Linked DNA regions of Homo sapiens: region 2 is linked to region 1. The links come from fine-mapping of genetic effects on gene expression. Tissue or cell type: blood mononuclear cells. Region 1 holds a variant in brackets; the other region holds the start of a gene. All regions are shown on one strand. Distances are between the middles of the regions.

Region 1 (8,106 bases):
ATGCGTGTCCACTCTAAATTTACCACATATAGTTAAGAGAAGCCACGCAGCTTCATAATGCTTTGCTTCTTAGATTTTACTTCAGCCAGATGTCCTAGTTCATGGTTCTTAAGTTCTGTCTTCCATAAAGCCCTTGAGCATGGACACAATTCAGCTAACTTGTGTGCCACTTTATAACAAGGATGACCCATTTTCCAGTTTCCAATACCTTGCTCCTCATTTTCATCTGAGACTCATCAGAATAGTCTTCACTGTCCACATTTCCACCAACATTCTGGTCACGACCATTTAAGCAGTCTCTAAGAAATTTCAGACTTTCCTAACAGCTATCTCTTCTTCTGAGCCTTAATGCTCTGTACAGGTTTTTTTTTTTTTCTAGGCTTCTCCTCCAAATTCTTCAGCTTCTACCCATTACCCACTTCCAAAGTCACTTCCACATTTTCAGGTATTTGTTATAACAATACCCCACTTCTCCGGTACCAATTTTCTATTTTTGCTTTTTTGTGCTACTGTAACAGGATGCCCAAGAACAGAGATTTATTTGGCTCATGGTTCTGGTGGCTGGGAAGTCCAAGACTGAGAGGCTGGCAAGGGACTGCTTGCTGTGTGATCTCATGGCAGAAGGTAAGAGGGCAAGAAAGAGAATTTTACAATGAACCCACTTCTACAATAATGAACTCACTTCCACAATAACATCACTAATTTATTCATGAGGGTGGAGCCCTCAAGGCCTAATTGCCTGTCATTAGTTCTTACTTGCCAACACTCCTGCATTGGGGATTAAGTTTTCAATACATGCTTTTGGGGGAACACATGCAAACCATAGCACTAAAAGTTGAATTTAGCAAGATCGTAGGATACAAGTTCAATAACCAAATATTAATTATATTTTTATATACTAACAATAAGCAATTGGAAAATAAATTTTTTTAAAATCAAGGTATAATTCGTGTACCATAAAACTCACCATTTAAAAGTATACAATACAGTATTTGTTGCTTTTTGTTTTTGAGATGGAGTCTCCCTCTGTTGCCCAGGATGGAGCGCAGTGGCACAATCACGGCTCACTGCAACCTCCGCCTCCTGGGTTCAAGCGATTCTCCTGCCTCAGCCTCCCGAGTAGCTGGGACTACAGGCATGCCCCATCACGCCGGGCTAGTTTTTTTGTACTTTTAGTAGAGACGGGGTTTCACCACATTGGCCAGGCTGGTCTTGAACTTCTGACCTCGTGATCTGCCCATCTCAGCCTCCCAAAGTGCTGGGATTACAGGCATGAACCATTGTGCCCGTCCAGTGGTTTTTAATATGTACTTAAAATTGTGTAAACATCACCAGTATCTAATTCTAGAGCATTTACATCACCCTGAAAAAAAACCTCTTATCTATTGGCACTTGCTCATCATTTCCCATTCCGCACAGTTCCTGTCAATGGCTAATCTACTTTCCATTTTTATGGATTTGCTTATTCCGACATTTCATATAAATGGAATCACCCGATATATGTGGGCTTTTGTGTCTGGCTTCTTTCACTTACTGAAATGCTTTCAAGGTTTACCAATGTTGTAGCATGTGTCAGTACTTCATTCCTTTTTCTAACTGAATAATATCCCCTTGTATGTATATACTACTTTTTGTTTATTCACTCATAGGTTGATGAACATTTGGGAGTTTCCACTTTTTGGTTATTACGCATAATGCTGCTATAAACAATTTTTTATGTGAACATACGTTTTCAATTCTCTTGAAAACATAATTGGAATTCTCTTGGAAAGAAAGTTGGAAAATTAAATTTTAAAGATGTCATCTAGAACAGTGTAAAAAGACATTAAGTACTTAAGGATGAATTTAACAAAATAGACGTAACTCCTATATACCGAAACCTATAAACATTGCTGAGATAAATTTAAAAGATCTTAATACATGAGAAAACATACTATGGGCTGGGCACAGTGGATCACACCTGTAATCCCAGGATTTTGGGAGGCTGAGGCAGGCAGATCATTTGAGGTCAGGAGTTCGAGACCAGCCTGGCCAACATGGTGAAACCCTGTCTCTACAAAAAGTACAAAAATTATCTGGGCATGGTGGCATGCACTTGTAATTCCAGCTGCTCAGGAGGCTGAGGCAGGAGAATCACTTGAACCTGGGAGGCAGATGTTGTAGTGAGCTGAGATCGCACCGCTGCACTCCAGCCTGGGCAACAGAGCAAGACTTTGTCTAAAAAAACAAACAAACAAACAAAAAAACTATGGATTGTTTAATACATGTAAGTTTTTCTATAAATTAAATGCAATTCTAGTCAAATTTTCAGCAGTCTTTTGATTTAGAAATTGACTAGCTAATTCCAAAATGTATGCAATGTTAAATGTATTAAATAGCCAAAAATTTTTTGGGAAAGAACAAAGTTTGAGAACTTAGACTACTTCTTTTGAAGACTTATGACAAGGCTACAGTCATCAAGATAATATGATATTGATATAAGGATAAACTATGATCAGTAAAACAGAACCCCATATGTGTGATCAATTGATTTTCAGCAAAGGTACCAAGATAATTCAGCGGAGAAAGGACAGCCTTTTAAAGATGTGTTGCTAAAACAACTGCATAGTTGCATGGAAGAAAATGAACTTCAGCTCTTACCTGATAAACATAAAAATTAGACTTACATGTAAAAGCTGCATTTATAAAGTGACTAGAAGAAAACATTAAAAAGAAATCTTCTGGCTGGGTGCGGTATCTCAACGCCTGTAATCCCAGCACTTTGGGAGGCTGAAGTGGGCAGATTGCCTGGGCTCAGGAGTTCGCGACCAGCCTGGGCAACACAGTGAAACCCCATCTCTACTAAAATACAAAAAAAAAAAAAATTAGCCAGGGGTGGCAGCATGTGCCTGTAGTCCCAGCTACTCGGGAGGCTAAGGCAGGAGAATTGCTTGAACCTAGTAGGTGGAGGTTGCAGTGAGCCGAGATGGCGCCACGGCACTCCAGCCTGGGCGACAGAGCGAGACTCCGTCTCAAAAAAAAAAATCTTCACAACCTTGAGTAGACAATGATTTCTTAAACATGAATTCACCATCTTCTTGGTTTTGCTGGCTTTCCAAATAAATCTGGCTTTTCCTCCCACCAACCCTCATTTCTCGTGTCTGGTTTTTGAGCAGCAAGCAGCCAAACATAGGTTCAGTTACAAAATTTGGCACCCAATGTGGGGCTGTGTGCCCTCTGGTGGTCTAGCCTGCCTGGTTTCCATGGATGGAGCAATTGGCTGCAGCAGTGCACCAGGGCTTACCTGTTCATGTTATCAGGCAGAGCAGCAACCGCTTATGAGTGCTAGTTGCTGCTCATGGCTAGCTGCCTCTGTGGCTGGGATTCCAGGAGTGTCCTAGCAGCAACTGAGAAATCTTTTGTCTTGGGGACCCTCTCTTCTGTCCCCTTCATGGAATCAGCAGCCTGTAACACTTTGGTGGTGCAAGTGGTATCCAAGGGAGTTGATGGGCCCCAAGACTGGGTAAGTCAAACCAGGGCACACACGGGGAATCCTCTGTCTATGCTATTTGAGCTTTTGTGTCATTTGGACATAGCATGGGTTGCTTGTGTATCATTTGGTGTAAGATAAGATTCTTGATAACATTTCTGCAGTGCCCCTTTTCAGGAATGAGTTTGGGAGTGTTACATTTGTTTTGGTTTCTATGTGTTTATTAGTTTATTATTATTATTATTATTTTTTTTTTTTTTTTTGAGATGGAGTCTCGCTCTGTCACCCAGGCTGGAGTGCAGTGGTGCGATCTTGGCTCAATGCAACCTCCGCCTCCCGGGTTCAAGTGATTCTCCTGTCTCAGCTTCCTGAGTAGCTGGGATTACAGGCAGGCGCTACCACACCTAGCAAATTTTTGTATTTTTAGTAAAGACGGGGTTTCACCATGTTGGCCAGGCTGGTCTTGAACTCTTGTCCTCTGGTGATCCACCTGCCTCGGCCTGCCAAAGTGCTGGGATTACAGGCATGAGCCACCGCGCCCGGCCTAATTATTATTTTTAAATTTTATTTTATTTTTATTTTTTGAGATGTAGTCTCGCTGTGTTGCCCAGGCTAGAGTGCAGTGGGGCAATCTCAGCTCACTG[T/C]AACCTCTACCTCCCGGGTTCAAGCAATTCTCCTGCCTCAGCCTCCCGAGTAGCTGGGATTACAGGTGCGCACCACGATGCCTGGCTAATTTTTGTATTTTTAGTAGAGATGGGGTTTCACCATGTTGGTCAGGCTGGTCTCGAACTCCTGACCTCATGATCTGCCTGCCTTAGCCTCCCAAAGTGCTGGGATTACAGGCATGAGCCACTGTGCCTGGCCTTAATTATTATTTTTTAAAAGAATTTCAGGCCGGGCGCAGTGGCTCACACCTGTAATCCCAGCACTTTGAGAGGCCAAGACAGGCGGATCACCTGAGGTCAGGAGTCTGAGACCAGCCTGGCCAACATGGTGAAACACCGTCTCTGCTAAAAATACAAAAATTAGCCGGGTGTGGTGGCTCGCGCCTGTAATCCCAGCTACTCCAGAGGCTGAGGCAGGAGAATTGTTTGAACCGGGAAGGCGGAGGTTGCAGTGAGCGGAGAATACACCATTACACTCCAGCCTGGGCAATAAGAGTGAAACTCCGTCTGAAAAAAAAAAAAAAAAAGGAATTTCAGTTAGTTTATCTTGAGACATAGCTTACATTAAAATTATATTAAAACAAGCTTTAATTTTGAGCCATACATTGATGGATTATTTTATCACAAGTAGTTCTTTATTTCTACTCACATTATTTTATTTTATTTTCACTTTATTTTATTTTTTACTCTATTGTTTTACTTTTAGGTTCAGAGGTACATGTGAAGGCTTGTTATATAGGTACACTTGTGTCATGGGGGTTTGTTGTACAGATTATTTCATCACCCAGGTATTAAGCCTAGTACACAATAGTTATTTTTTCTGCTTCTTCCTTCTTCCCACCCTCCACCCTCAAGTAGACCCTAGTGTCTGTTGTTCCCTTCTTTGCGTTCATGAGTTATTTAGCTTCCACTTATAAGTGAGAACATGTGGGATTTGGTTTTCTCTTCCTGCGTTAGTGTGCTAAGGATAATAACCTCCAGCTCTATCCATGTTCCTGCAAAAGACATGATCTTGTTCTTTTTCATGGCTGCATAGTATTCCATGGTGTATATGTACCACATTTTCTTCATCCAGTCTATCATTGATGGGCATTTAGGTTGATTCCATGTCTTTACTTTTGTGAATAGTGCTGCAGTGAACATTCGTGTGCATGTGTCTTTGTGTTAGAATGATTTATATTCCTCTGGGTGTATATACCCGGGAATGAGATTGCTGGGTTAAATAGTTCTGTTTTTAGTTCTTTGAGGAATCGCCATACTGTTTTCCACAATGGTTGATCTAATTGACATTTTCACCAACAGTGTATAAGTGTTCCCTTTTCTTTGCAACCTCACCAGCATCTGTTATTTTTTGACTTTTTAATAATAGCCATTCTGACTGTGCGAGATGGTATCTCATTGCGGTTTTGATTTGCATTTCTCTAATGTTCAGTGATATATTTTTTTTCTTATATGCTTGTTGGCCACATGTATGTCTTCTTTTGAAAAGTGTCTGTTCATGTCCTTTGCCCACTTTTAATGGGATTATTTTTCTTTTCTCTTTTCTTTTTTTTTTTTTTTTTTTTTGAGATGAAGTCTTGCTCTGTCACCCAGGCTGGAGTGCAGTGGTGCAATCTCGGCTCACTGCAACCTCCGCCTTCCAGGTTCAAGCTATTCTTCCACCTCAGCCTCCCGAGTAGCAGGGACTACAGGTGCATGCCACCATGCCCAGCTACTTTTTGTATTTTTAGTAGAGACAGGGTTCCACCATATTGGCCAGGCTGGTCTCGAATTCCTGACCTTGTGATCCACCCACCTCGGCCTCCCAAAGTGCTGGGATTACAAGCGTGAGCCACTGCGCCCAGCCTGATTGTTTTTCTATTGTAAATTTAAGTTCCTTATAGATGCTGGATATTAGACATTTGTCAGATGCATAGTTTGCAAGTATTTTCTCCCATTCTGTAGGTCCTCTGTTTACTCTGTTGATAGTTTCTTTTGCTGTGCAGAAGCTCTTAAATTTAATTAGATCCCATTTGTCAATTTTTGGTTTTGTTGTGATTGCTTTTGGTGTCTTTGTCATGAACTCTTTTCCCATTCCTATGTCCAGGATGGTATCACCTAGGTTGCCTTCCAGGGTTTTTATAGTTTTGGGTTTTACATTTAAGTCTTTAATCCATCTTGAGTTGATTTTTGTATATGGTGTAAGGAAGGAGTCCAGCTTCAAACTTCAGCATATAGCTAACCAGTTATCCTAGCACCATTTATTGAATAGAGAATCTTTTTCCCATTTCTTGTTTTTGTCAGCTTTGTCAAAGACCTTGTGGTCATAAGCGTGCAGCCTTGCTTCTGAACTCTCTATTCTGTTCCCTGGGTCTATGTGTCTGCTTTTGTACCAGTACCATGCTGTTTTGGTTACTGTAGCCCTGTAGTATAGGTTGAAGTTGGGTAACATGATGCCTCCAGCTTTGTTCTTTTTGCTTAGGATTGCTTTGGCTATTTGGGCTCTTTTTTTGTTCTGTATGAATTTTAAAATAGTTTTTTTCTAATTCTGTGAATAATGTCATTGGAAGTTTGATAGGAACAGCATTGAATCTGTAAATTGCTTTGGGGAGTATGGCCATTTTAGTGATATTGAATCTTCCTGTCCATGAGCATGGGATGTTTTCCATTTGTTTGTGTCTTCTTCGATTTCTTTGAGCCATGTTTTGCAATTGTCATTGTACAGATCATTCACCTCCTTGGATAGCTGTATTCCTATGTATTTTATTCATTTTGTGGCAATTGTGAATGGGATTGCCTTCCTCAATTTGGTTCTCAGCTTGGCTGTTGGTGGTGTATAGGAATGCCAGTGATTTTTATACATTGATTTTGTATCCTGAAACTTTGCTGAAGTTGTTTGTTTATCAGCTGAAGGAGCTTTTGGGCCGAGACTATGGGGCTTTCTGCATATAGAATCATGTTATCTACAAACAGGGATAGTTTAACTTCCTCTTTTCCTACTTGGATGCCCTTTATTTCTTTCTCTTGCCTGATTGCGCTGGCTAGGACTTTCAGTACTATGTTGAATAGAAGTAGTAAGAGAGAGGAATGCTTGTCTTGTGCCAGTTTTCAAGGGGAATACTTCCAGCTTTTGCCCATTTGGTATAATGTCAGCTGTGGGTTTGTCATAGATGGCTTTTATTATTTTGAGGTATGTTCCTTCAATACGTAGTTCATTGAGAGTTTTTAACATGAATGGATGTTGAATGTTATCAAAAGCTTTTTCTACATCTATTGAGATAATCATGTGGTTTTTTACTTTAGTTCTGTTTATGTGCTAAATCACATTTATTGATTTGTGTATGTTGAACCAAATTTGCCTCCTGAGGATGAAGCCTACTAGATCATAATGGATTAGCTTTTTGATGTGCTGCTGGATTTGGCTTGCAAGTATTTTGTTGAGGATTTTTGAATCAATGTTCATCAAGGATATTGGCCTGAAATTTTCTTATTTATGTGTTTCTCTGCCAGGTTTTGGTATCAGGATCATGCTGGCCACATAGAATGAATTGGGGAGGAGTCCCTCCTTTTCAATTTTTTGGAATAGTTTTAGTAGGAGTGGTACCAGCTTTTCTTTATACATCTGGTAGAATTTGGCTGCAAATTCTTCTCATCCTGGGCTTTTTTTGGTTGGTAGGCTGTTTATTCCTGATTCAATGTAGGAGCTTGCTATTGGTCTGTTCGGGGGGTCAATTTCTTCCTGGTTCAGTCTTGGGAGGGTGTATATGTCCAGGAATTTATCCATCTTTTCTAGGTTTTCTAGTTTGTGTGCATATAAGTGTTCATGGTAGTTTCTGATGATTATTTTTATTTCTGTGGGGTCAATGGTAACATCCTTTTCATCATTTCTTTTTTTTTTAATTTGAGACAGAGTCTCACTCTGTTGCCCAGGCTGGAATGCAGTAGGACCGTGTCAGCTCACTGCAACCTCCGTCTCCTGGGTTCAAGCAATTC
Region 2 (8,100 bases), 40 kb after region 1:
AAAGGTAGATAGAGGGGCTAGTGTGATGAAATATTTCTATTCTGTTTCCTCCTTTGTCTTCTTGTAGATTTTATATTACCACCAAATGGACATAGAATGAAAAATTTTCCAAGCCTCCATCACCCCTCACTGGGATTCCTACAATGGTCTTCCATGGGTCTCCTTGCTGCTCTACCATCTGTTTTTAACATAACAGCCAAAGAGGGCCCTTTAAAAGACAAGATAGACTGTTCCTACTTTGCTTTTTAAAAACCTTCTAACAGCAATTCCACCCCCTGCAGAGTAAGAGCCAAAGTCATTACAGTGGCTTACAAGGCCCTTCTCTGTCTGGTCCCCAAGCCCTTACCTCTCTAACCTCATCTCCCACCACTATCCCTCACGTATTCTGTTGTAGCTATGCTGGCTTCCAACACACCTGGTTCTCTCTGGCCTTTGTACTTACTGTTTCTTCTGAACAGAACTTTCTTCTTTCAGTTTGCTCTCTCACATCCTTCAGGATTTTGTTCAATGCTACCTTGAAACCCCATCCCTACCCACCCCTGGCACTCCCTGTCCACACTCTGCCTTTCTCCATAGTACTCATCACCATCTGGTTTTCTATATGCTTTACTTATTTGTTACCACTCTGTTCTCCTCACTAGAAGAAAAGCTCCATTAAAGCAGGGATGTTGGTTCTTGGCCCATAAGAGGTGCTCAAAAAATTACTGACTGAATGAACAAACTCAACTTTGCTATAGTGGGAGGAAACTCTTGGACCTAAAGTCTACCAGTTGAAGCAATTCATAGGTATAGTCTGGTGTTTCTCAGCTCGGCATAGGTTTAAAGTATAAAACTATTGATTAAGCAACCCATAGCCTGCCTCACTTAGCTATACTTACTGCATGAAATCTAAGTTCAGAATGGAGAATTAGATATCTGCCTCTGTATACTTCTCAAATATGTCCAGATCCTTACATTTTATTGGCTAAAAAGAGCAGTGCCAAATTTCTCATGACAGTCTTCTGTTCCAGTAGGTTGAGTTATTAAAAATACAACCCCATGGAACTCAAAAGCTACTTTGATAGAGGAAACAGAAAAAGGGAGAGCCACAAACATTTTTATTTTTCCTGAAATAATATTTATGCCAATATCATAAATATGATATTTATGATTAATCATGCTATTATGATTAACACTGTATTAAATCCGCCTTCCAGGGGCTGCTGCTTGCCACTTCCCTGAGTGTGCAAGTTCTGATTCTGTCACTGACTGACTTTTGGTGCCAGATCAAATTTTTCCCTGCATCCCTTAGGATCTCAGGAGAAATATTGTCTTTTGTTACTGGATTCTAAGTAACCCTGAACTTGCTTTTAATTGAAAGGAAGCAAACTTCCCTGCCCTTGAAACACCCTTGGCTTTTAGCAAGAGCTCCTATTTTCCCCTTGACCATGGCTGGAGGATGCAATGGCCTTGGCTCTGCTTCCTTAGATTCTCTACCCTTCTCTATTTTTCCTGTCTTAGACTATCCTAAGAGGCTGTCCATGCATTTCACTGCTATAAATTCACCAACCCAGATATTCCGTTCTTCTCCTCACTTCTATCTCCTCATGTTTTCTAAATAGCTCCTTTTCAGTCATTTCAACTCTACCGTCATGCTTTATCAGATTTTAGGGCCAGGCGCGGTAGCTCACGCCTGTAATCCCAGCCCTTCGGGAGGCCGAGGTGGGAGGATCACCTGAGGTCAGGAGTTCAAGACCAGCCTGGCTAACATGGTGAAACCCCGTCTCTACTAAAAATACAAAATAAATTAGCTGGGACAGTGGTGCGCACCTGTAATCCCAGCTACTCGGGAGGCTGAAGCAGGAGAATTGCTTGAACCCAGGAGGTGGAGGTTGCAGTGAGCCGTGATCACGCCACTGCACTCCAGCCTGGGAGACAGAGCGAGACTCTGTCTGAAAAAAAAAAAAAAAAAAAGAATTTCACCAAAGGTCCTTTATTTCCAGTTACTTTTCATATCTCCATTTATTATAGCCCATTTGCAGATGGAAGGCATTGGCTTCTCTGCCATACAACTCTCTTGAGGCAGAGTTACTGCTACTCACTCTTTCCTCTGCTCTCAGTTCTGTGTTCTGGCTTCTGTTATACAGTTGATGGAGATCGTCTGTTTAACAAACACCCTGCCTCCCACACAGATGAAGATGTCCTCCAGGGCAGAGATTGCAGTCTTTCATTTCTATGTCTCCACCACACAGCACGGGGCCTGGCACTTAGCATGTGTTCATCAAGTGGTGACTGACTGAACAAGTTGTCTTTTCAAATGTGTCGGATCCCTCATTCACATTTCCACAGACATCTCCAGCCCTCCACACTCAAGTATGATCTCTAAATTCCTTCCATAGCTTGTGGTGTCCTTGAGACTGTCTTTTATTTATTTATTTATTTATTTGCTTTTATTTTTATTTTTTGAGATGGAGTCTCACTCTGTCGCCCAGGCTGGAGTGCAGTGGCACGATCTCAGCTCACTGCAGCCTCTGCCTCCCGGGTAGCTGGGATTATAGGCACGTGCCACCAAGCCAGGCTAATTTTTGTATATTTAGTAGAGACGGGGTTTCACCATGTTGGCCAGGCTGGTCTCGAACTCCTGACCGCAGGTGATCCACCTGCCTCGGCCTCCCAAAGTGCTAGGATTACAGGTGTGAGCCACCGTGCCGGCGAGAGTGTCTCTTATACCCGTGTCATGTGAATGAATGATTGCACTCACAATCATTTTAGGGAAGAGCATCTGATTATGGAACCTTATAAGTGCAACCTTCTAAGTGGACTTACATATATGGTGCAGCTTGAGAGGGACTAAAAAGGATCCTCTTCCAAAATCTCTCCCTCTCTCTCTAGCTAGCCTATCCAGTTGCTAGAATTCTGTCATCAGAGTTTCACGCCTTTGGGTTAATGGATTGTTCTAGCTCAACACACACAAACACAGCTGTATTAATCATTAATAAAGTCAGTTAGGAGTACTAGTGTAACAGATCCTTCCCAAATGAAAATGAGCTGAGAATCGGATCTGATGAGAAGGGATAAGAGACAGGAATGTGTGGGGACGTGGATCCAGAGTACTGACACTGAGTGGGGAAGCACCATGAATAGTCAGGGAGAAGGATGCTGAGAGACAGAGGCTTTTTTTTTCTTCTGGTTTTACTAGGTTAGGCTTTTAAGATATAGGCAGGAAACAAACTGTTAATGATCTGAAACCTAAAAACTGTGGACTTCCAGGTTAGCAAGCCCCAAACCTAATCTTTTCTCAACTAGCTGCTTTTATCTAGACAACTAGACCATCTGAAGTCAAAAAGGACCTCAGAGATCATTTTACGCCCCACCCGCATCACTTTTACAGATGAAGACATTCAAGCCAAACGGGATTAAGTTATCTCGCCCAGGGTCTCGCAAGTCCAGACTAGATCCTGGACTCCCCGTTCGCCTCTCCAGGAAGAACAAGTAATTATGCTTATTATAATCGCCACACAGCTTCATCTAGAGAAATGTCACTCACTGATTTTCAGAAGCTGAAATAGGTTTTCCATTCAATTAACCACAAACTAGGTCTTACGTATATACTTATTAAAGGAGACTCACAGACATCAAATTCTATAAATTGCAGTTAAAGAACATAAAAAAACACAACCTTGCCAAATATGCCACAAATTAAACTAAAGGATATTTTAGTGTTTCTATGATTGCTGGGGGTATGTAATTTCAAATACTGCACTTTCTCACTGAGATCTGTGCTATGCGGCTCTGGGTTCCAGGGACGTTTTAGTGCTTACCTTCTTCTCCCGCATGCTTAGAAGCCTTTGGACCTCTTGCGCAATGAGGAAACCCCAGGGTAACTGTGGGCAGTTGGCTGAGTAGAACCAGAAGCGTAAACATAGTCTGGCAACTGTCAAACAAACTAAAACAAACAAAAAAAAATATTAAAAAAAAAAGGCCCCTAGCTCAGCACTTTGAGTTTCTGTCGAACTGAATCACCAACCTGTTGTACTCAAAGCCTAGGCGCAAGAGCGCCCGGCGCGCGGTTTCGGTCGCCGGAACCCGACGCGCGCCCAGGAAGCAGCCCCTGAGAGCGCCTGGGACAAACGCCGTGCCCAGTGACCCTGCCGAGGGCTGATCGGGCACCTGTCGCCGCGGGCAACCCTCGCTATGTGTTCGAATCCAACCCAGTCCGCCGAGGTGGCCCCTTCCAGGTAACCCCCTCCCCGCCGAGGTCCTGCCGCCAGGCCTCGTACCTGTGTCCCCCCGCACATGTTCCAGCAGCCCCCGGGCCAGAGGCTCTTCTTGGGGCGGTTCCTTCGGCCGCCAGGCCCTCGGTCTCCGGCGCCCTCAAACCTCGGCGACGCTCCGGGCCTCGCTCTCCGCAGGGTCTGGATGGCCCCCGCGCGCAAACCTGGGAAGGGCCTGGGGTTCGCAGAGGGGCGCCCGGGGAACACGCGCGGGGTGAGGTCCTGCCTCGGTCCGGGGAGGCGGCCGACGGAGGACGGGAGGAGGCGGCTACCTGGGGACACCTGGCCGCGCCCCACCTCCCGGGGGCCGGGCCTACCTGCGGCGAGCGGGCGGGCAGTGGGCCGGCGTCTCCCGGGAGCCCGCGCTGCGCTCTCAGCCGCCCCAGCTTCTGCCCCATCCCCGGGCGGGCCAGCCGCCTGCCGCCAGTTCTGGCCCCGCCTTGGCGGCGCGGGTGGCTGCTTTTCGATTTGTGTCTGCACTCGGCGTTCTCAATGATCCTAATTCAGGAAGCATTTCGGTTCTCAGTCTTAAGCAGAGCGCCCTCGGCGCGTCCAGGGCTTTTCGCTTTGGGTCCCACTGGGCCAGGAGTCCTGTGGTTACCTTAGGTCAACTGTTCTCAAAAGGGTGGTCCGGGGACGAGGACAAGATATTCATCAGACAAAATACCCTTTATTCGTGATAAGAAATGGAAATGACCTTACAAGTAATTGATTACATTGGTTCTCCAATGGTGGTCCGCCAGGTCTGGGATGTCTCCAAGATCTTTTCCAGGGGTCTCTGAGGGCAAAACTATTTCCATTATAGTAACAATAAATGATTTGCCATTTTCACTTTCATTCTCTCAAGAGTGTACAGTGGAAATTTCCAGGGGCTATTTGAAGTGTAATAACGTCATCATTCTGTCTCCTAATAGAATACCTGAGTGAGCGTGCTTGTATTTTCTGGTATTTTCCATAGTAGTATGTTTACATTATCAGTATGTACATTTTATAGAGATTTATGTAGATTTATAGAGATTAATAAAATTTGTTCTCAGTACTTGTGAACTTAATTTTTTTTCTTTCCTTTTTTCTTTTTCAGAGTAGGGGGTCTCACTTTGTTGCCCAGGAACTCCTGGGCTCAAGAGATCCTCCTGTCTCATCCTCCAGAGTAGCTGGGACTACAGGTGTCCACCAACTCTCTTGGCTACTGCTTTTGTACTTTGATTAGTTCTATTTGTTCATATCTACTAGGATAGCTATAACCTCATTTTTCTGAAGTAATTATCTTGAAATCTTGATCTTTTCCTTGAGTCTATGCATAAACATAACAAAAAGTAAGCTTTGTTGTCTTGATTTCAAATAATATTTTGAAAATTTCTCAGTTTTAATGTTAGATAATAAATATCATTAGATAAAATTCACATAAGTGAAAGCTCTTTGGGGTCCTTGATAATGTAAAAGAGCGTAAAAAGGTCTTGATTAAAGACTTCAAAAACTGCTGCATCAAGTAATGAAGGCAGCAGGTGGACAGAGTACCTATGCCAGGTGATGGTCACATCCTTCTTTATCCAAAGAACGTGCTTAACAGTTCTTTGAAACACTATTTATGCTTTGGTCGAAGTGGTCTGGCACTTGCTGGGGACCAAGGGAAACATTTTTTCCCCCTTCATTTTTTTTTTTTTTTTCTTGAGACAGAGTCTTGCTCTGTCACCCAGGCTGGAGTACAGTGGCACAATCTTGGCTTACTGTAACCTTCGCCTCCTGGGTTCAAGCGATTCTCCTGCCTCAGCCTTCCGAGTAGCTGGGATTACAGGCATCCACCACCACGCCCGGCTAATTTTTTGTACATTTAGGAGAGAGGGGTTTTCACCATGTTGGCCAGGTTGTTCTCAAACTCCTGACCTCAGGTGATCCACCTACCTCGGCCTCCCAAAGTGCTGGGATTACAGGCATGAGCCACTGTGCCCGGCCTCAAATTTTTGACTAATTCAATTTTTACCAAATTCTGTTTTTCTCCTCCCAAAGGATATTGTCTATTTTATTATTATTATTGATAATCAACTGAATTATTCCTAAGTTTTCTGCAGAAATTTTGTTTTCACTGATTCCTTCTAGGCAGTGCTTTTCCTTTCCCTTCTTCCAATCCCTTCCTCTTCACTTTCCATTTGTCTACCTCGTGGTCTAAACTATTTCTATGATGGATTCTTCTTTCCCTCTTATTCAAGCAATTGGGATCAGACTATGAAGAGGCCAGACATGGTTTATTGTGGTTGAACACAAGAATAGGAAACATTTTCACTAGAACACCCATTTTCCTGTTTATTCATTGAGTCAACCTACAGCACTGAGACCTCCTGGTGGGGAGATGGACACCACAGCTTCTGTTGTGGAGGAGAACTTAATCTGACTGAGACCTATATCTGAGAATGTGGGCCTGTAAAGTTCTTATCAAGTGCAAGAACTGACTTATTCATTTTTGCATTCTCGACAGTACCCAGGGGAGTGCTTTCTACATTGTTCGTGCTGAATACATTTTCATGGAGTGGAAGCAATTTATCTTCAGGTAGGAAAAGTGCTTCATTTCCCACTACTTTGGGGAGAGGCCAATGGTCAAATGCCTCATGCTATGGAATCAGCAGTTGTGAACTTTGATGACATTCCTTGGTAAAATGAGTCTGCCCACATATCTGGATATTTGGACCAAAACAAATGAGGCCTTGTGCTGACATCAAATATCAGAGTTTATAGACAGAGAGGGAGGCAGACAGAGAAATGAAGTCTGTTTCTCAGTAGTGAATTACATCCCTGTGTGTTTCCCTGTAACATTGAGTCCTAGAGAATGTTACAGCATTTGGCAGCATGCACACAAACTTCAGTCACTACGGAGCTGCAAGATATTTTGAGGTTAGATGGCAAAGAGAGAAATGAGAAAAGCCAGTAACAACAATGCCCAAGAGAGCTGATTTCTTCTATTATTTCCTTGCTGTATTAATTTTATTTTGTGCCATCTGCTATTTAAAGTTATAATATTCTTGGTCGGGCACGGTGGCTCACACCTGTAACCTCAGCACTTTGGGAGGCCTAGGCGGGCAGATCATGAGGTCAGCAGTTTGAGACCAGCCTGGCCAACACAGTGAAACCCCGTCTCTACTAAAAATACAAAAAAAAATTAGCCAGGCATGGTGGCAGGCACCTGTAAGTCCAGCTACTCGGGAGGCTGAGGCGGGAGAATCGCTTGAACCCAGGAGGCAGAGGTTGCAGTGAGCCGAGATCGCGCCATTGCCCTCCAGCCTGGGCAACAAGAGTGAAACTCCATCTCAATAATTATAATAATAATAATGTTATAATATTCTTATGCCTTTCTTCCAAAGCATTTTAAGTGTTCTCACAGATGGTATTTTTCTTATACTGGCTATCTGTGGAGTTGGGCTAGATATTATAATTCTCATTTTACAAAGAGGGATATTGAAGCATGAAGTAAATGAATAGTCATCGGCCAAGTAGTAGCTTGGTTCTTGACTCTGGGTTTTTTTTTTTGTTTTTTTTTTTTTGAGTTATTATCAAGCAATAAAGGGCAGTAGGTAAAGAATTATTTAGTTCAGAGGGAATAAGAAAAAAAATTGGAGCAATGAGATTAATGGACTTGGATTAATGTGATAATGCATCTCTGAATTTGAGCACATACCCGCCCACTTACCTGTGTGAATTCAAGAATGAAATGAAAACTCACTTTACTGTGTGGGCATGAGGATGGACTCAAGGACTGTGACAGGAGATGTTAAGATTGCAGCCATGAAGCTCTGTAAGTAAAGTCACCTCCACATCCTTAAAGGCACATCGATGACTATCATTAGCCTCTTGAAGA

Evidence for each region. PIP is the estimated chance that this variant, and not a neighbour inherited with it, causes the effect.
Region 2: it holds the start of PRRG4, and the variant in region 1 is fine-mapped to the expression of PRRG4 in blood mononuclear cells (TOPMed, PIP 0.95).

What each region holds. Positions count from the first base shown.
Region 1 is chr11:32,866,010-32,874,115 of GRCh38, reverse strand. No RefSeq gene overlaps it. Among named protein-coding and RNA genes, the nearest start is that of QSER1, 23 kb to the left of the region's middle. The variant T/C (reference allele first, on the strand shown) is at 4,114.
Region 2 is chr11:32,826,333-32,834,432 of GRCh38, reverse strand. PRRG4 (proline rich and Gla domain 4) reads right to left here and starts at 4,506. Exons shown (of 6, transcript NM_024081.6): 1 at 4,260-4,506; 2 at 3,801-3,925. The coding sequence starts at 3,903. It also overlaps a transcript of CCDC73 not described here. RefSeq lists enhancers at 3,810-3,869, 3,880-3,929 and a silencer at 4,350-4,729.